3 separate regions of the Homo sapiens genome follow, and regions 1 and 2 are each linked to region 3. The links come from fine-mapping of genetic effects on gene expression. A gene starts in region 3. Each other region holds a variant in brackets. All regions are shown on one strand. Distances are between the middles of the regions.

Region 1 (6,250 bases), 26 kb before region 3:
AAATACACAGAGAGGCAGAGAAACAGTAGGAAAGAGGGAAGGAGGAAGGAAGGAAGGAGGGAAGGAATGAAGGAAGGGAGGGAGGGAGGGAAGGAGGGAAGGGAAGGGAAGGGAAGGAAGGAAGGGAAGGAAGGAAGATGACCAACCTAAGTGAACTCTGGGAACAACGGTGAATGTTTGTGTTTATATAAACATGTTACTTTAAGATGGTTGACTCCTTACAGACAAAGGCCATATTTTCATCACTTCCTATAAAACCTCTCTACAATACCCAACAAAGTGAGAGGTCCTTGGTGTTCCCAAAGCATTTAAGAGATAACAACAGTAATGTCCATGTGAGATCCTCGCGCTGGTGTGTGGTTTCTGAAGTGCATCCTGCAATGTGAAATGGTAGCTGCTATTCGGTGTTGATAACCTCAGTTCACTGTGGATCCCATCCGACAACGCGTGAAGTCAAGAAAAGCCAACTGTGACCCCACTGAGGGGGAAGCATCTAGTCTCTGCTTCCTGAACAGACTGTTCCAAAAACGGGGCTGTTGTTTCAGTTACTTACAGTAATAAAACCACCGCGACCCCATATCCATCTTTCCACATTCCCCACCTCCCATCCTACCCAAGGTCATGAATATCAAACTTGGAAAGGAAAAGAATGAAGGACGTCTCCCCCAGCAATTAAAATTAAGTCCTTTTTCTTGCCTCCAACTAAAATCTTGGACGTGATGGCAGTTGCATTTAGCGGGATCCCAAATGCTGCTTTTATATGCCAGCATTCCATTCGGGGGGCTGATTTGTAGGTTTAAAAATATGCAATGTATGAAAGAGAGGCTCATTTATTTATTTCCTCCCTTGACTGACCTTGGGCCTTGATTTATCTCAAAACCAAGAGAATTTTCCTCTTGGTAAAGGAGGACTAATTCTTTCAGTGAGTCCTTGATAGTTTCTGCCATCAAAAACAAACCATAAGCTGAATGTACAGAAATGCCCTGCATTTAAGAAAGATGACATGGGGAGTAGTAAAAGCAGGAGGAAGAGAAGTGTGAGAAGAAAAAGAAGCAGGGAAAATCAGGGGGAAAGTGATGTTGAACAAATCATGCACATTTCAAGATTTTTAAAAAAGCAATGCGTTTGGGGATGGATAGCTGTCACCCTTGCCACCTTGGAGGAAAGTTTTGCTGGCTAACTGGCTATTGTCAAGCAGGCCGGGCTGGTGGCCTCGGCGGGCTGGCTGACCTTCCCCTGACTCCAAGAGGAAAGAAATAGTGAGGCTCTGTGTCCTGCGAGTCGGGCCTTCCTGTGACCTGAGTGCAACGTCTCAGCCCCTCTCCGACAACCCTCCAGCAAAGCTTGCTGGAGCTCTTGGTTTATTTTTTCAGGTGAGTGAACGCCGTATCAAATACTGGTTTCTCAGTTGCTTTTAATTAGGCTTCTGGGTTCCACTCTTTCATCTCGCCTGAAATCTGCATCACTTTTCTCCAGCTATTTCAGGTTCTAAAGCCACGGGTTTGCTTTCATTCAGCTAATTGAAGGCACACAGGAAAGGAGAAGGGGGATAATCCCAATCATTGGACATTTTTTAGGGCTGTGATAAACCACACATTTTTTAGCAACAGAAAACCACTTTCAAAACGTTAACTCTGCGGCCTCTGCTCAGGGGCTGGAGGGCCTACCCCTGAGGCTTCAAGGTTCATGTCATGTGGGATTCTCTGAGACTCCTCGATGCAGGTAGAGAGCAGGAGGGCAGGTGAGATGCCGTGATGTGACGGAACAGGCCCCATCACTGTCCCTTTCTGGTGTCGAGCTACTGGGAACATCGCTGTTGAACTGTGTATCTGCAAAGCTCTGGGGTGGAGGCCCAGCCACACACAACATCGGAGAACAGAGCTGATGCTGATGTCCCCTGAAGTGTCAGCCAGCAGCCAGGTGCTTGCTTAATCCCAGAAAGGGCAGTATATATTTTTCAGTAAAATTTTATTAAATCCTAATAGCAGATCTTTTTTTGTGGAGCAAAAAACTCTTGAAAACTATATTCATGAGGTATGTATAATTTGTTGGTTTTACCAAGGCTTTTTAGTAAACAAGCTTTAGATCTTGCCAGAGTATTCAAAATAGGTTTATGTAGAGCAAATATTTAAATTTATCTGTTATTCTATTTTTATAATTAATGAATAGGATTATAGGCATTTAATAAAACTTCTACAAAATAGAGCAGGGTGGGGGGGTGAATCCTACTTATTTGCTACCAAAAGAATCAAAATAACATTTATATTTATATCTCAATATATGGTTCTTCAAGTCATTTCAGGAGATGAAACAGTATGTGTTACCAACGGCTTTTAATTATAAAAACAAAGTGTTTAAATGGATCCAACACAGTCAGTTGGCAATACATCTAAATTCCATGTTATAGTGGCCTTTGTAAGGCAACAAATGGGGAAAGTACTTGTTAATTCATACAACGTCAAAGAATACCTGATACCTAAATAGCTCCCACAGTCAATTGAAAAAAGACCAACTATTGGGAAAATGACACTTTCCAGACAAGATCACAGAAGTTTAGATAGGTGAGAAGATACTCAGCCTCACTCATGATAATTAAAATGCAAATTAAACTATACTGAGATTTCATTTTCCAACTCCCAGGTTGTTTAAAAAAAAAAAACAAACCTAACAGGTTAATATGCTGGTGGCAATGGAGTAGAGGAAAGACATTTATTAAAAGCTGAAGGGCCCAGCACTTTGGGAGGCCAAGGCGGGCTCATGATGAGGTCAAGAGATCGAGACTATCCTATCTAACATGGTGAAATCCCACCTCTACTAAAAATACAAAAATTAGCTGAGCGTGGTGGTGCACACCTGTAGTCCCAGCTACTTGGGAAGCTGAGACAGGAGAATCGCTTGAACCCGGGAGGTGGAGGTTGCAGTGAGCCGAGATCATGCCACTGCACTCCAGCCTGGCAACAGAATGAAACTCCATCTCAAAAAAAAAAAAAAAAAAAAAAAGCTGATGGGAACATATATTGGTTTCAATTTCTATGGGAATTTGGCAATACCTACTAAAATTATAAATGCAAATGCCCTTTGACCCAAACTTCTTTTTCCAAAAATTTATT[C/T]GACAAATACATTCACCTAGAGGAAAAGTTCCTCTATGTCCCCACTTTCCATACTGTGCTCTTTGGAAGGAAGTCATTATCTGCAGCCCACATTTATGGGGTGGGGAGTTAATACTCCCCATCCTTGAGGGCAGAGTATCTACAGAAATTATTTGAAATTTTCTGCACAGAACATTTGTCTCTTTTCTTCAATTCATTTATTTTTTCAATCATTTGTTGATATCCGTATGAGTTCGTGGTTATTTATTTTATACTTTGAGTTATCATCCAAAGCTACTTTATTTACTTAGCTGAGTTTTTGATTAAACGGAATGATTGTTTTGGCATCCAGTAAAAATTGGCTTAGAACCCAGAGCTCATCACACAGCTCTGTGACCTAGTAGTCTCTTTGTATGTGCTCATGGAGTACCCATGTCTCTAGTCGTTTATTGGTTTGTCAAGGGTGTACCATGTGCCCTTTACTGTGCTAGGGGTACAGCAGTGAATGGAAGAGACTGCCTGCCTGCCTGCCCATGGGAATTATCAACCTAATGTCTGACTGATTTACTGTATATGTAGCATGGCACTAGAAAATCTGGGGCAACAGCAGGGGCAATATTATTCCTTTGGAATGATAGTAGTCATCTGGGCAGGCTAGAGGGACACCCAGACTCACACAAGACTAGAGAGAAAATAGGCGTAGAATAAATATAAGCCAAAACACCAACACCTGTCTGGTGTGCTGAAGGATGAGGTGAATCAAAGACAGATTTCTTGAGATGGCATGGAATAGACGCTCTTATAAAAGTTTTGTTAAAAGGAACTAGGCAATCATTGGAAGGATGGGGTCAGATGTAGATTTTCCTATGCAGCATTTAAAAAAATAGAACAGACAGACTATCCATAAAACGCAGGAAGAGGAGGAGGCCATAGGAGACTGAGGCTGTAGCTGAGAGGTCACCCATAGAGCAGACACTTCCAGCCACAGGAGGGGCAGAGGGTTTAGTTTTGGAGAGAGGATGAATGTGGAGAAAAGTAAAACACTCAACATTCAATGTAAAAGGGAATATGTATTGTTAGGCTCTCTGAGAGGCGAAATAGACCATGAATTCTTAACAGCTTCTTGTGTGTTGGAAAGACCTATGAAAAGTTTCATTAAGTTTTGGGGAAAAGCAGGTAGGGTAACTCCATAAATCTAATGTCGAGCTGCTGTGGTGTTTCTTTGAATGGTGAAAGATACATTTTTTCCCTTTAGTTTGCCAAATTTTACTGCCCACACTCTTACCATTGCTGCCGGGAGATCTGATATGTTGAACTCTTAATATGATGAATACATGTCTGAGGATTGAAAGAAAAGCAGTGGCATTAAAAATGTCAGAATAACAGCAGTGTAGTTTCAGTGTTCTCCATGAGCCGTCACTCCTAACAATGGGTTCTTGCTTGTCAAACCTCATATGTTGCTTTGTAGAAGCAAATACACTGACTGGGATCTGCCTTGAGAAAAGAAAACAAAAAACAAGGTTGAACGTTGGGCGTTTTCGTTTTCAGTCTGAGCTTTGAAGGTAAATTTCGTCCTTGATTGTTTTGTTATTTTCTTTGGGCTCAAACTCTTGGGCTCCATCTTTCTTTGGCCAAGTCCAGGTTTCTTGGGTTCTTTCCATTTTCTCCAGGATTATCCACACATGTGCTTCCTTTCCCACTGTTTCTACTAAACAGATACTGGACGTAGAATTACAAAGTTACATAGTCTTCTTTAAGACTTTAATTTTTTAAAGCAGTTTTAGGGCCATGGCAAAATAGAGAGGAAGGTGACGAGATTTCCAATATACCCTCTGCACAGCCTCCCAGTGATCAACACCCTCACCAGAGTGGCATACATGTCACAGTCAATGAACCCACCCATATTCACACATCATCACCACCCAGAGTCCATCGTTCACATTAGGTTCACTCTTGGTATTTGGACCAATGTATAATGATATCATCCACTATTACGGTATCATACAGAGTAGTCGCACTGCTCTAAAAATCCTCTGTGCTCCACCTATTCATCCCTCCCTCCCCCTAACTCCTGGCAACCACTGATATTTTTACTGTCTTCATAGTTTTGCCTTTTCCAGAATGACACATAGTTAGAGTCACAGTATGGAGCCTTCTCAGATTGGCTTCTTTTAACTAGCAGCATGTACTTAAGGCTCCTCTATGTCTTTTCATGGCTTATTAGCTCATTTCTCTTTAGTGTGAATAATATTCCATTGTCTGGATGTACCACAGTTTATTTATCCATTCACCCACTAAAGAACATCTTGGTTGATTCCAAGTTTGAGCAATTATGAATAAAGCTGCCATAAATATCTGTGTGCAGGTTTTTGTGTGGACATAAGTTTTTAACTCCTTTGGGTAAATACCAAGTAGCATGATTACTGGATTATATAATAAGGGTATGTTAGTTTTGTAAGAAACTGCCAAACTGTCTCCTAATGTGGTCGTACTGTTTTGCGTTCCCACCAGCAATGAATGAGGGTTCCTGTTGCTCCACATTCTCACCATTTGATGTTGGCCATTCTAACGGCTGTGTGCTGGTATTTCATAGTTTTAATTTGCATTTCCCTGATGACTGTGATGTGGGGCATCTTTCCATACAGTTATTTGCCATCTGTATACCTTCTTTGGTGAGGGATCTGCTAGGTCTCTTGGCTCATTTTCTAATTGAGTTGTTTTCTTATTGTTGAGTTTTAAGAGTCTTTGTCTATTTTGGATACCAGTCCTTTCTCAGATGTGTCTTTTGCAAGTATGTTCTCACAGTCTGTGGCATGTCTTCTCATTCCCTTGATAACTTTTTCACTTACAGCTTTGCAAATGTTAGTAAATGACCATAATAGGGCTCTGGAGCAACACAAGCAATGTCCTCTCATGAGGCTCCAGGTGGCAGTGATTGCTCTGAATCCCAGCATTGCTGCTGCAGCCTGGCCAGCAAGTGATTCATCACTGTCAATGTTTTCATATCTTAACTTCCTTCTGAGGAGTGTCTCAGAGTCTGGTAAATGGTACCAAGAAATCTCCACCCTCAGTCCAGCTGGCTTCGTGTGGACCAGCTGAGTGGTGTGGGGGACTAGGAAACTGGATTTCTACCCAGTTGTCATTCTGTGTCCAACGTATTG
Region 2 (6,226 bases), 300 kb after region 3:
CCAATCGGCACTCTGTATTCTAGTTAATCTGGGGGGACTTGGAGAATCTTTATGTCTAGCTAAGGGATTGTGAATACACCAATCAGCACTCTTAATCTAACTCGAGGTTTGTAAATGCACCAATCAGCACTCTGTGTCTAGCTGATCTGGTGGGGACTTGGAGAACCTTCATGTCTAGCTAAGGGATTGTGAATACACCAATCGGCACTCTGTATCTAGCTCAAGGTTTGGAAATGCACCGATCAGTACCCTGTGTCTAGCTCAAGATTTGTAAATGCACCAATCAGTGCTCTGTGTCTAGCTAATCTAGTGGGTACTTGGAAAACTTTTGTGTCTAGCTCAGGGATTGTAAACGCACCAATCAGCACCCTGGCAAAACGGACCAATCAGCTCTCTGTAAAACAGACCAGTCAGCTTTCTGTAAAATGGACCAATCAGCAAGATGTGGGTGGGGCCAGATAAGGGAATAAAAGCAGGCTGTCGGAGTTAGCCGTGGTATGTTTGCTGAGATCTGCTTCAATGTAGTGAAAATGGTTATTCTTCTTGCTTTTTTTTTTTTTTTTCTCTTTTTTTCAGTAAATGTGCTGTTTTTCGGTTTTGTTTCCTGTATGAGCTGTAACATTCTTTGTAAAGCTCTGTGGTTTTGTTTTTGAAGGTATGAAAATAGAACCAACCCATTTGTAGAGTTAAACAACTATCAGGAGCGTATGGCGTTATGTAGTTTATGACACTCACTGAATGTTTTAGAGCTTTACTCTTGAGCCGATGAGATCGCTAAGCCCACCATGAAAGAAGTAAAGGGAGGACATACCGCTTTAAAGAACTTGTAACACCACACGGGTCTGTGGCTTCATTCCCGAAGTCAGTAAGACCAATGAACCCACCAGCACAGTGTTTTTGGTGATGGTTGTTTTTAGCAACCTTAACTGTAAAAATTTCTCGTTTAAAATCATGAATTACGTGTTAAGGTTTCAACGTATGAATTTGTGGAGGGGGCTGGGCACAATTCACTGCATAGCAAATAACTGTACTTTGAGAATAACGTATATTTAAAGTTTAAATTGTGAATTTTAAAAATTCAATTTGATCTTTTCCAAACATTTTTAAAGAACGATTTGACAGTCTTAGGTCCTCTAATAAAAATCACTTGCAGTGAATTTTTAAAAAATGGACAAGTAATAGTTGTGTAGACTTTTGCAATGTTATGTTTTGATACATGCTTACATGGTAGTGAAACTGGGCAAGTTCCCTTGTTCCTCTCGGGATGTGTGATGGGGCTGATGGCTCACTTTAGTGCCCTGCTGCTCCAACTTTTAGGAGAGAATACAGACAGGTAGGCTGTGGGGCTCCAACCCTTTTGCAGTGTCTAGGGCTGAATGTTTACAACTCCTGAAGCTCCACTGGGCATGTGTTAGAGTGCTTTTTTAGTTTAGCTATCCATAGGTGGCTTGTGTTAACCAGTTCAATCAGACCCCTACCTTATCGCAAGGACAGAGGGCTTTCTGTATCCTGGGGTTCCTGCCTTGGTGTACCAGAAGAATCGGATCACATGTGGGCTTGGAGAATGAGTGCAAGGTAAGTCTGGCAACCTGGGCTCTCCTTCAACTGCCCCCGTCAAACTGCGTTGTTCTGCCGGTGGATGGCCTGCCTGCATGCCGGTGCCTGCTGGTGCATCCCATTCCTCTCAACTTCCAGCCGCTCGTGTGTTCCTCCACTGATGTACTCCTCTCGATATGCAGCCACCTGTGTGTCTGCCTGCTAGCGTCTCAGGGTTTTACAGGCACAGGGTAGGGGCGTGGCAGGCCAGGGTGGTCTTGAGAAGTGCAACATTGGGGCAGGAAAACAAAAATGCCTGTCCTCAACTAGGTCCGTGGGCACAGGCCCAGGGTTGGAGCCCTAGCCAGGGACCACGCCCTTCCCCCCCCCGCCATGTTATTTAAAGAGAGCACACCCTTCCATATCAGTGGAATGGCTAAAACAAGCTAATTCCCATACGCATTACCTCATCTATTTTTTTTGTGATGAGAATGTCAGAGTAGGCGGTTAGACGTGAGCAGGGCATGCACGGGCCCCCAAGAATGTTGGACATTTGTCAAGCCACAGTCACAATTATAAATCTGTCCCTCTGAAATAATGAGCAAGACAAGGAAGGGACCCCAGAGCTGTCTGGTTCTCATTGGGACCGGGATTGAAGGGCATAAAACTATCCCTCTAGGGTAATAAGTGGCCATGGCTGGCGCTGGGAATAACAGGAGTCTTGCAACAGACAGAAGACACCTGGAGTTAGCAAGGCAGTCCCAGACAAGGTTTTGAGCATGTGCAGTAATAGAAAGGTGTGAAATTTACCCGGTGTATGACTTTCCTCTAGGGGCGCTCGACCAGTAAGGGAGAATTGCATCTAATGGGCATGCGCACAACTTCAGTAACCATCCAGCGCCTACTGGGAGGGCTACTGGGCATGCAATACTTGAGGGCCAGCCCGGGAGGTGAAGAACAAAGAGTGGAGACAGCCTGGAAAAGAGTAAGGGGTATAAAAACTGTAAGCAGGCCTGGGGTGGTGGCTCACGCCTGTAGTTCCAGCACTTTGGGAGGCTGAGGCAGGTGGATCATGAAGTCAGGAGATCAAGACCATCCTGGTTTACATGGTGAAACCCTGTCTCTACTAAAAATACAAAAAATCAGCCAGGCGTGGTGGCAAGCACCTGTAGTCCCAGCTACTCGGGAGGCTGAGGCAGGAGAATCGCTTGAACCCTGGAGACAAAGGTTGCAGTCAGCTGAGATTGTACCACTGCACTCCAGCCTGGGCAATAGAGCGAGACTCCGTCCAAAAAAAAAAAAAAATCAAAGCGGAAGCAGCACTTGATTTTTGAAGTCTCCTGCTTGACCCTCTTCCAAGCCTACTTTCTCCAATGAACTTTCACATTGCTTAAAATAAATGTTCCCTTGCCTGTCTCTCATTTGAATTCTTTCCTTTTAAAAGTACAAAGTGAGAAGTGACAGCATGCTGGCAGTCCTCACAGCCCTCGGTCGCTCTGGGTGCCTCCTCTGCCTGGGCTCCCACTTTGGCGGCACTTGAGGAGCCCTTCAGCC[C/T]GCCGCTGCACTGTTGGAGTCCGTTTCTGGGCTGGCCACGCAAGGCCGGAGCCGGCTTCCTCAGCTTGCAGGGAGGTGTGCAGAGAGAGGCGCCAGCGGGAACTGGGGCTGTGCGCGGCGCTTGCGGGCCAGCTGGAGTTCCGGGTGGGCGTGGGCTTGGCGGGCCCCGCACTCGGAGCAGCCGGCCGGCCATGCCGGCCTCGGGCAATGAGGGGTTTAGCACCCGGGCCAGTGGCTGCAGAGGGTGTACTGGGTTCCCCCATAGTGCCAGCCCACCAGCGCTGCGCCCTATTTCTCACTGGGCCTTAGCTGCCTTCCCGCGGGGCAGGACTTGGGACCTGCAGCCCGCCATGCCCGAGCCTCCCTGATGAACACCACCCCCTACTCCATGGCTCCCAGTCCCATCGACCACCCAAGGGCTGAAGAGTGTGGGCGCATGGCGTGGGAGTGGCAGGCAGCTCCACCTGCAGCCCCAGTACAGGATCCACTGGGTGAAGCCAGCTGGGCTCCTGAGTCTGGTGGGGACCATGGAGAACATTTGTGTCTGGCCCAGCGATTGTAAATACACCAATCGGCACTCTGTATCTAGCTCAAGGTTTGTAAACACACCAATCAGCATCCTGCATCTAGCTCAAGGTTTAGTGAATGCACCAATTGACACTCTATATCTAGCTACTCTGGTGGGGCCTTGGAGAACCTTTATGTCTAGCTCAGGGATTGTAAACGCACCAATCAGCGCCCTGTCAAAACAGACCACTTGGTTCTACCAATCAGCAGGATGTGGGTGGGGCCAGATAAAAGAATAAAAGCAGGCTGCCGGAGCTTGTAGTGGTAACCCGTTGGGGTTTTCTGTGCTGTGATAAGGTTTGTTCGTTTGCATTTGGCGTCTGCGTTGCCTTTATGAGCTGTAGCGCTCACTGCGAAAATTGTCACTTTATTTCTGAAGTGGGTGAGATGACGAGCCCGGCAGGAGGAACGAAACACTCATCTGTGAAAGTTGCAACTTCATTTCTGAAGTAGGTGAGACGACTCTGTGAAAGTTGCAACTTCATTTCTGAAGTGGGTGAGACGACGAGCCCATTAGGAGGAACGGAACACTCACTGCGAAAGTTGCAATTTCATTTCTATAGTGGGTGAGACGACGAGCCCAGTGAGAGTGAACGAACAACTCCAGGCGCGCCGCCTTAAGAGCTATAGTATTCACTGAGGGTTTGCGGTTTTATTCTTGAAGTCAGTGAAACCAAAAACCAATTTCTGGGTGTAAAAAGACCAAGGTTCTTGCAAGGTTGCTCCTCCCAAATTCCTTCAGATAGGGGAAGACACACAGTTTACAAGAACATTTTGAATCTTACTCATTTTCAAGTATATAATATATATTTTTAATTGTAGCCAACATGACTTACAATAAGTAAACTTAAAAAGATATAAGCCACCCATGTTGGGTGTGGGGGTACATGCCAGTAATCCCAGCTGCGTGGGAGGCTGAGGTGGGGTAGATTGCTGGAGTCCAGGAATTTGAGGCCAGCCTGGGCAACATAACACCCCATTTCTGAAAGTAAACAAAGCCCTAATTATGTTCATTTTCCCCCTTCATTTTCAGATTTCCCATTTTGGCCACGCTTCACATGCGACACATATAGAAGTACACAGCAGCTTCCCCCCTTACCTGCAAGGGATATGTTCAGAGATCTCCAGTGGATGCCTGAAACTATGGATAGTACTGAATCCTATATATACTGTTTTTTTCTATACATATAATAAAGTTTATAAATTAGGTACAGTAAGAGATTAAAAACTCAAAATATGAGTTAAACTCATATGCAATATAATATATGCAATAAAATTGAAATACTGTCAAACTCTGTAAAGTATTTGAAGAGATTTGTTCTGAGCCAAATGTGAGTGACCGTGGCCTCTGACACAGCCCCTGGAGATCCTGAGAACACGTGCCCAAGGTGGTGGTGGTCAGGGGGGAGCTTCTGGGTCGCAGGTGGATTCCAAGATTTTCTGGTTGAAAGTTCATCTAAAGACCTGAAATCAATAGAAGGGAGTGTGTGGGTTAAGATAAGGTGTTGTGGAGACCAAGGGTCTTATTCTGCAGATGAAGCGAGCAGGCTTCAGAGAGCATCTATTGTAAATGTCTCTTTTCAGACTCTCCTGGATCAGGAGAAAGACCCGGAAAGGGAAGGAGATTATCTACAAAAATGTAGATTTTCCCCACAAGAGGCAGCTTTGCAGGGCCATTTCAAAATATGTCAAAGAAATATGTTTTGGGGTAAAATACTTCAATTTCTTTCAGGGCCCGTTGTCTGTCATGTTGGTAGCTAATTGCTAGATAGAGTCTGTTTTGTCAGCGTTAAGGTCTGTTTTAATGTAATGCTGGTCAGCTGTGCCTGAATTCCAACGGGAGGAAGGTAGAATGAGGCATGTCTGAGCCCCTCCTCCCTATTTCACATCGTGGCCTGAACTAGTGTTTCAGGTTTACTTTCGAATGCCTTTGGCTGAGAGGAGGGGTCCATTTGGTTGGGGGGCTTAGAATTTTATTTTTGGGCCAGGCTTGGTGGTTCATGCCTATAATCCCAGCGCTTTGGGACGCTGAGGCGGGCGGATCACCTGAGGTCGGGAGTTCGAGACCAGCCTGACCAACACAGAGAAACCCTGTCTCTACTAAAAATACAAAATTATCTGGGCGTGGTGGCGCATGCCTGTAATCCCAGCTACTCGGAAGGCTGAGGCAGGAGAATCGCTTGAACCCAGGAGGCGGAGATTGCGGTGAGCCGAGATCGCGCCGTTGCACTGCAGCCTGGGCAATAAGAGTTAAGCTCCATCTCAAAAAAAAAAAAAAAAAGTATTTTATTTTTGGTTTACAATAACATACTGTAATAAAAGTTACGTAAATATAGGCCAGGCGCGGTGGCTCACGCCTGTAATCCTAGCACTTTGGGAGGCTGAGGCCGGCAGATCACTTGAGGTCAGGAGTTTGAGACCAGCCTGGTCAACATGGTAAAACCCCATCTCTACTAAAAATACAAAAATTAGCCGGGCGTGGTGGTGCACCCCTGTAATCCTAACTACTCAGGAGGCTGAGGCAGGAGAATCTCTTGAACCAGGGAGGTGGAAGTTGCAGTGAGCCAAG
Region 3 (6,250 bases):
CACTGGCCCCCACACGCCAACCGTGCAACAGCCCCGTCCTGGCAGCTGATCCCTTAGCTGTCCGGGAATTCCAAGCACATCTTTGGAAGAGCTAGTTGGGTCCTTTCTGGGGGCATGGAAAGGAGGACCAAGGTCTTATCTGACTGAGGTGAGGAGCAGACACCACGGGGAGTAGGGAAAGAGAAAACTGCAGCCCAGAAGGCGCTTCCTTTACAGAATCCCGAGGCCAACTCAGGCAAATGTCAAGAGCAGGAAAAGCCACCAACTTCAATTCAATTAAATGCATAGGACCGACTTTCAAGAAGGAATAATCTGGGTATTGACAAGCTTGAATTCAAGTTAATGCAAGAGAGAGAGGTCTTGAAGGACATTCATTAAACTGTTCCTGGTTATCCCTGGACGGCGGCAGTTGGGGTGATGTTCACGTTTATTTTACAAAAGCAATTAAGCTACTTTGAATAAAGGAGGAAAAGGAAACATGAAAGAAGTACCCAAGTTCTGAGTCAGAGATCTGACTTCAAATCCCAATTCCACCACCACCAGCTGTGACCATGAGTGGTCCCAGCATTAATGAGGGCCTCAGTTTCTGCATCTGCGGAACGGGAATAACAGTATCTACCTCCTAGGATTATCAAAGCTTAAAGTGGATAATTTAGGATATGCCAAACATCTGGAATCGGGCTCAAAAAGTGGTAAAGAATTTTGAAGATATTTTTCTTTAACACTCCAAAACAACTTTCAGGGAAAGTCATTTTTCATGGAAGGTGCTGACTTTATTGGAGACTGACCATCTCCTCATCACAGTCTACTCCAGAAAAATCAGAGGGAGGTGGGGAATGTTGTACCCAACTTTCTAATGTCTCTAAGACGTGGGTGGCAAGGGTAGGCTGTTAGCACTCCAGAATAACGTTGCTATGCACCCATTCAGGGCTTAGCCTCACAGCCAAACTGAGATCCAGACCCCAGAGAAGCCGCGTGAATCAACAGCAACTCTGCAGCCCCCGACCCCAGCCCTGGCGTCCCACTCACTGAGGCTCTGGCCAGGTGGCGGTGACTCAAACCTTCTCCATTTTAACTTGGCATCTCAGAGCTTCTGGACAGAGTCCACAAATACATGAGACAAAAATAGGCCAGCATACCCTCCCTTGCCAGGCCCTCATTGTTGAGGGATGAGATGAGGGCTGGGCAAGCGGTTACACAGCCGAAACCAGGGCCCTAGAACCCAGCTCTGCCAGCATGGGCGCCCCACAGCTCTGCCCACAGCGTCTGCTCTTTATTCTTGGTTTCTCCTCTCCTTCTCTTCCACTTCCCATTCTTTGTGATCCATCTTTTTCCAAAAGTTGACAGGTTGGCTGGAGACAATTCCCCCTGCCAGCTTTTCTGTCTTTTCCACCTTTAGTTTAAGTTGTCCATGAGGGCTGGTGATCCATTTTCGGTCCTCCATACCTTCCTGGGCAATCCCTCTGGGCCCTCACACCTCCACGCCCTCCACCCTCCCAGCTCCTTCCTCCCGGGGCCTCGAGCTTTTCCCTTTTTTCATCCTCTGTGCACTGTTTCACCCCGACATGTATGTTATTGTTTGACTGTGGCATCAGCCATTCTTGGAGACTTTTCCCAGGGCTTGCAATTTTGTAGCAGAGAGAGATTTTCTATCTAAAGCAAAATGCTGGTCTTGTTTAAATAAATAATAAGATAAAAGAATCAGGCACTGTAGGGGTATTTGGCCCACAGCCATCCTGTCTCAGCAGGGTCCTTTTCATTGAGGGAAGCATTTTTCATATCCATAATTTGCCCCTTTCTCTAACCCAGGGTGCACGCTGCCGTGGCCCTTGGTGACAATGTCCCCTGTGGCCTTCCTCCAAAGCTTGCTCCAGCAAGCTCTGACATGGTGTCCTCCCTCCCCTTCTGGGCTGCGGCTTCTCCAACCTCCCCCAGCTCCTGCAGACAGAGGAGAAACAGCAAGTCACAAGATAAGACAAAGACCCTCTAGGCCAGGCCACTCCTCGCTGCCACTCTGGGACAGCAAGGCAAAACGCAGACGGCCCCAGCTCTGGACGCCTCTCCTCCTCTGGACCCTAACCCTAACCCTAAGCCACTGGAACACTCACGGGAGAAAGCTGGACCTGCTTTGAGGCTCACCTCCCTGCATGCACATCCATCCGGCTTCTCTCAAGAAGCAACCTGGTGTCTGAGAGCCGTTGAGTCTTCATCCCAGCTCTGGTATTTCTCTCATGTGGCCACATAACCTTGAATGTCTGACCTTCAATTTCTTCATCTGTACAGTGGTGAAGATGATCCCCACTTTGCTAGGTTGTTGTGAGCATTACCTAAAAGAAAATAGGTGCTATGGCGGCATGTTTGTTGAGCTAGGAGGACTCGGAACAAAATTAGCTTCTGCACCGGCTGTGCTGGAGCCAGGCAGGCCGCTCCGGTGTGGCCCTGTTTTTCCTGGTTTGTGTCCCAGGAACCTGCCAACCCTCATTGTCCCGGATTTTCCCTTTGACTCCAAAAGCCGTGTCTTTCTTATCAAGCCTCTTTATTTTTGTTATTATCCCGTCAACATACTCCCCTCTGATTCGCCCCCACTAATGACTCGCGCCCTTTCCAAAGTCCCAGCACACCGCGCTTATAATCTCTTTCAGCTGTCCTTAAAAAGGTTCTATTTGTCCCCTCCGCCCCGCTCAGGGGCGCCCGGACTCTGGGGCCCGGCCTTCGCGGGCTCCCGGGTTCCTCCCATCGCTTCCCTCACAGTCCTGGCCGCAGGGCAGCGGGTTTCGCACGGGAGGGAAGGTTTGGATGGCTAACGCCCAGGGTTGGTCTTCCCTGTGTCTTTTATGGGAACACGTTCCTGCCTGCGCCCCACGGGACAGAGCCGTTTTCCCGCCCCGCCACGCCGCGCCCGCAGGCCCCGCTGCCCGCAGCCTCTTCCCGACGCCCCAGGCCGTGCGCCCCCCCGAACCGGGCCCACCGCGTGCTGTGCGGGGCTTCCGCGCCTGCGCACGAACGCTTCTGCGAGCTTTCTCGGAAGCAGCTGGGGGGCGGGGAATCTGCTGAGGAACGGCGCTTTATAAATCAAAAGATAATAATAACAGAGCTTACGGTGAGCACCGGAGGCTGGAAACGGGGTGGCATCCGCTCGGGGCGGGGCGGCGTCGCCAGCGAATGACAACACTGCCCCCTGGTGGCCGATGCGGCCAGGCCCGAGAGAGCGCAGGCCGGGTGCGAGCCAGGCTTCCTCACCACGCGGCTTCCCCACTCATCCCATAGAAACCGTAACTGAGCAAATGACGGTAAGTCCCCAGGAAGCGTTAAGGCCAGGAAGCAGCACAGGAGAAAAACCCGAATCCCATTTTTTTAGAGTAGGGATTTATTTGTTGTCCCCAGATAGCAAGCTGAATTTCTGAATAGTTCAGAGCTCACAAAAGAAGCCAAGACCTTTCAGGGCATTTTATAATGTTGCTTTTTATAAACAAAATATTGAAACCACTACTATCACTGTCACTGGGGGATTACTGTTGAGCAGAAATGCTTGTGAAACTCCCAAAAGAAAGGGTCGTTTGTGCTTCTTTGGCATTAAGTAAAAATGTCCTGTTTGGTGTGTACACGTTTTCATATTTAATTATTCACACTGTGCACTTTATATATAAACTCAGCACTTAGGTTCTCTGTGAGCCAGAAACCTGGCTTCTGTGCTCATCCATAGACCCAGTGAGAGTGTAGAAGCCAAGCCTGGTGGAGCCTGTGTCTACCAGGGCATTGCAGTAAAGCTTCTACCACTCACTGTAAATACCTCCCATCGAGGCTGAGGAAAAGTTGTAGCATACTTGGAAATTGGGGTGGAGTATTGTCATCCAAAAAGGCATATTTCTTTTGGTGTTTTCCATACCCGGCTGTGTCATTGTGAAGCCTCAGCTCTCCCAATCTCCCCATAAACTGGAGGAATCCTAGTGTTTCCTGTCCTGCCACATTATGTGTGGGGAAGATTTTTTTTTTTTTTTTTGAGACAGAGTTTCACTCTTGTTACCCAGGCTGGAGTGCAATGGCGCGACCTTGGCTCACTGCAACCTCTGCTTCCTGGGTTCAAGCGATTCTTCTGCCTCAGCCTCTGGAGTACGGAGCTGGGATTACAGGCACCCGCCACCATGCCCGACTATTTTTTGTATTTTTTAGTAGAGACCGGGTTTCACCATGTTGGCCAGGCTGGTCTCAAACTCCTGACCTCAGGTGATCCACCCGCCTCGGCCTCCCAAAATGCAGAAAGAGTCTTAAGATGGATTTTTAGTAAGTACTTCAAGCGGCTTTATGAAAGCTACCGTCAGTAAAGTAGAAAACTATATATGCACATATTTAGATATGGAGCTCCCACGGAGGAAGTGCTCTGACAGGTCAAATCTGCCCCCAAAATAAGTTGATAGAACTTCAAGGAAGCATGAAAGCGGCCTTGCTGTGCATTTCATTTTATGGAGCGTAAGTGCCTAATAAATGAATGTGTGGGTCTGAAGAAAGTGATATTTTCTAATGAAGTTATAAGTGTCGCAGTCCGGAAAAGTAGAACCCAAACAAACACAAAAAGGAGCGTGCAAGGCCCACGCCGCGCTGCACAGACTCTCCCCACCTGGTGAATGCTGACCTGGGGCCAGGCCACAGGCAGGGAGAGAAAGGTCGCCGGCATGAACACCAGGTGACCCCGTGAAGTGTGTGCTTCTGAGAGCAGGGGTCCCCCAAGTGAAGTGGGCGATGGCCTCCACCACCTTGAGAGCTCGTCATCCACTGTTTTTAACACTGCCTTCTGTTTTGCTTTAGTTCTGCTAAGATACACCTAACATAAAATGGACCCTCTTAACCTTTTTTAAGTGTGCAGTTCAATGGCATTAAGTACATTCACATTACTATGCAACCATCACCGTCATCCATCTCCGGGACTTTCTCCTCTTCCTAGATGGAAACTCTGGCCCCACTACACACCAACTCCCCATCTTCTCTCCCCCGTTCCAGTTGCTGTCTTTGTGAATTTGACCACTAGGAACCTCACACAACGTTTATCCTTTTTATCACAGGATTACTACACTTAGCAGGATGTCCCCCAGGCTCATGCACGTTGTAGCGTGTCAGGGTTTCCCTCCCTGTTAAGGTGAGTCGCGTTCCATCATACGCACCCATCACGTCTTGCTTATCCATTGATCTGTCCATGGATCCATGGACGCTTGGGTTGTTTCCACCTTCTGCCTAATGTGAATAACACTTCTGTGAACACGGGTGTACACGTAACTCCTTGAGACCCTGCTTTCGATTCCTTTGGATATATACCCGGAAGAGGATTGCTGGATAACGTGGTGATTCCGTTTAATTTTTGGAGGAGCCACTGTACAGATTTCCGCGCGGCCGCACAGCTTTTCCGTCCCACCCGCGGTTCCGAAGGGCCCACTTTCTCCACGTCCTCCCCAACGTTGTTGTTTCTGGATTTTTGACAGAGGCCATCCTGATGAGTACGAGGTGGTAGAGCTGCCTGCTTTTTGATTAATGTGACGATCACACCCTCTGCCTGGGAGTTTTACAGACTGGTGATGACTTTTTGTGGCATCTCAGGAAAGAACATAACTTCGTGGACGTCCTTAGTCAGAATCTACTCAGTGTATCTACTCAGTATAGGCTCACATGAGCCCTCACCTTCCCAGGGAGTCACAACCTCTACTATACTTCTTCTTTCTGCTCTGCCCCCCACAAACGGCCCTGCCAGCCCTCACCACCTAGAGGGAGATTGGGAGCCGGTAGAGGAAAGACACCCTGAATCCCCGAGGTCAAGCAAAGCCCTGGGGAGGCGCCGTGGGATCCCTGCCTCGGGCCTGCCTAGACAGTATGTGAATGAGTATCCCAGAGATTCTCCCCGCTGTGACCTCGAGGGCCAGCCTGCCTGTGTGGCCGTGAGCTGCTTTCTTCCCAGAGGAACTTGCTTGCGGCAGCAGGACTCCACAGCCTCAGGGGCAGCTTGGGTATGTGTGTGTTCCTGTGCCACGGTTATATGTCCGTTTGGGTGTGTGTGTTTCTGTGTGTGTGTGTGTGTGTGTGTGTGTGTGTGTGCGCGTGCGGGGGTGGGGGGTGTTTGGCAGGACCAATGTGTCTTGTATACTCAAGGGCGGATTCTTTCAAGCCAGCCTTCTTTCTGATGCTCTGCTCCCTGCGTTTCCACTCGTGCTGTGTGGCTGGTTAATATTTGTTTATCGTGTGCTTCCCATTAAAATGTCTTTAGGCC

The links. PIP is the estimated chance that this variant, and not a neighbour inherited with it, causes the effect.
Region 1: its variant is the best candidate, but not a certain one, in a credible set for the expression of LINC01600 in hypothalamus (GTEx, PIP 0.84).
Region 2: its variant is the best candidate, but not a certain one, in a credible set for the expression of LINC01600 in hypothalamus (GTEx, PIP 0.77).

Annotation. Positions count from the first base shown.
Region 1 is chr6:2,605,228-2,611,477 of GRCh38, forward strand. No RefSeq gene overlaps it. Among named protein-coding and RNA genes, the nearest start is that of LINC02521, 26 kb to the right of the region's middle. The variant C/T (reference allele first, on the strand shown) is at 3,111.
Region 2 is chr6:2,936,458-2,942,683 of GRCh38, forward strand. No RefSeq gene overlaps it. Among named protein-coding and RNA genes, the nearest start is that of SERPINB6, 32 kb to the right of the region's middle. The variant C/T (reference allele first, on the strand shown) is at 3,091.
Region 3 is chr6:2,631,466-2,637,715 of GRCh38, forward strand. LINC01600 (long intergenic non-protein coding RNA 1600) reads right to left here and starts at 3,138. Exons shown (of 3, transcript NR_131168.1): 1 at 3,100-3,138; 2 at 2,140-2,327. It overlaps LINC02521 (long intergenic non-protein coding RNA 2521), which reads left to right and starts at 3,035. Exons shown (of 3, transcript NR_149119.1): 1 at 3,035-3,290; 2 at 5,472-5,990.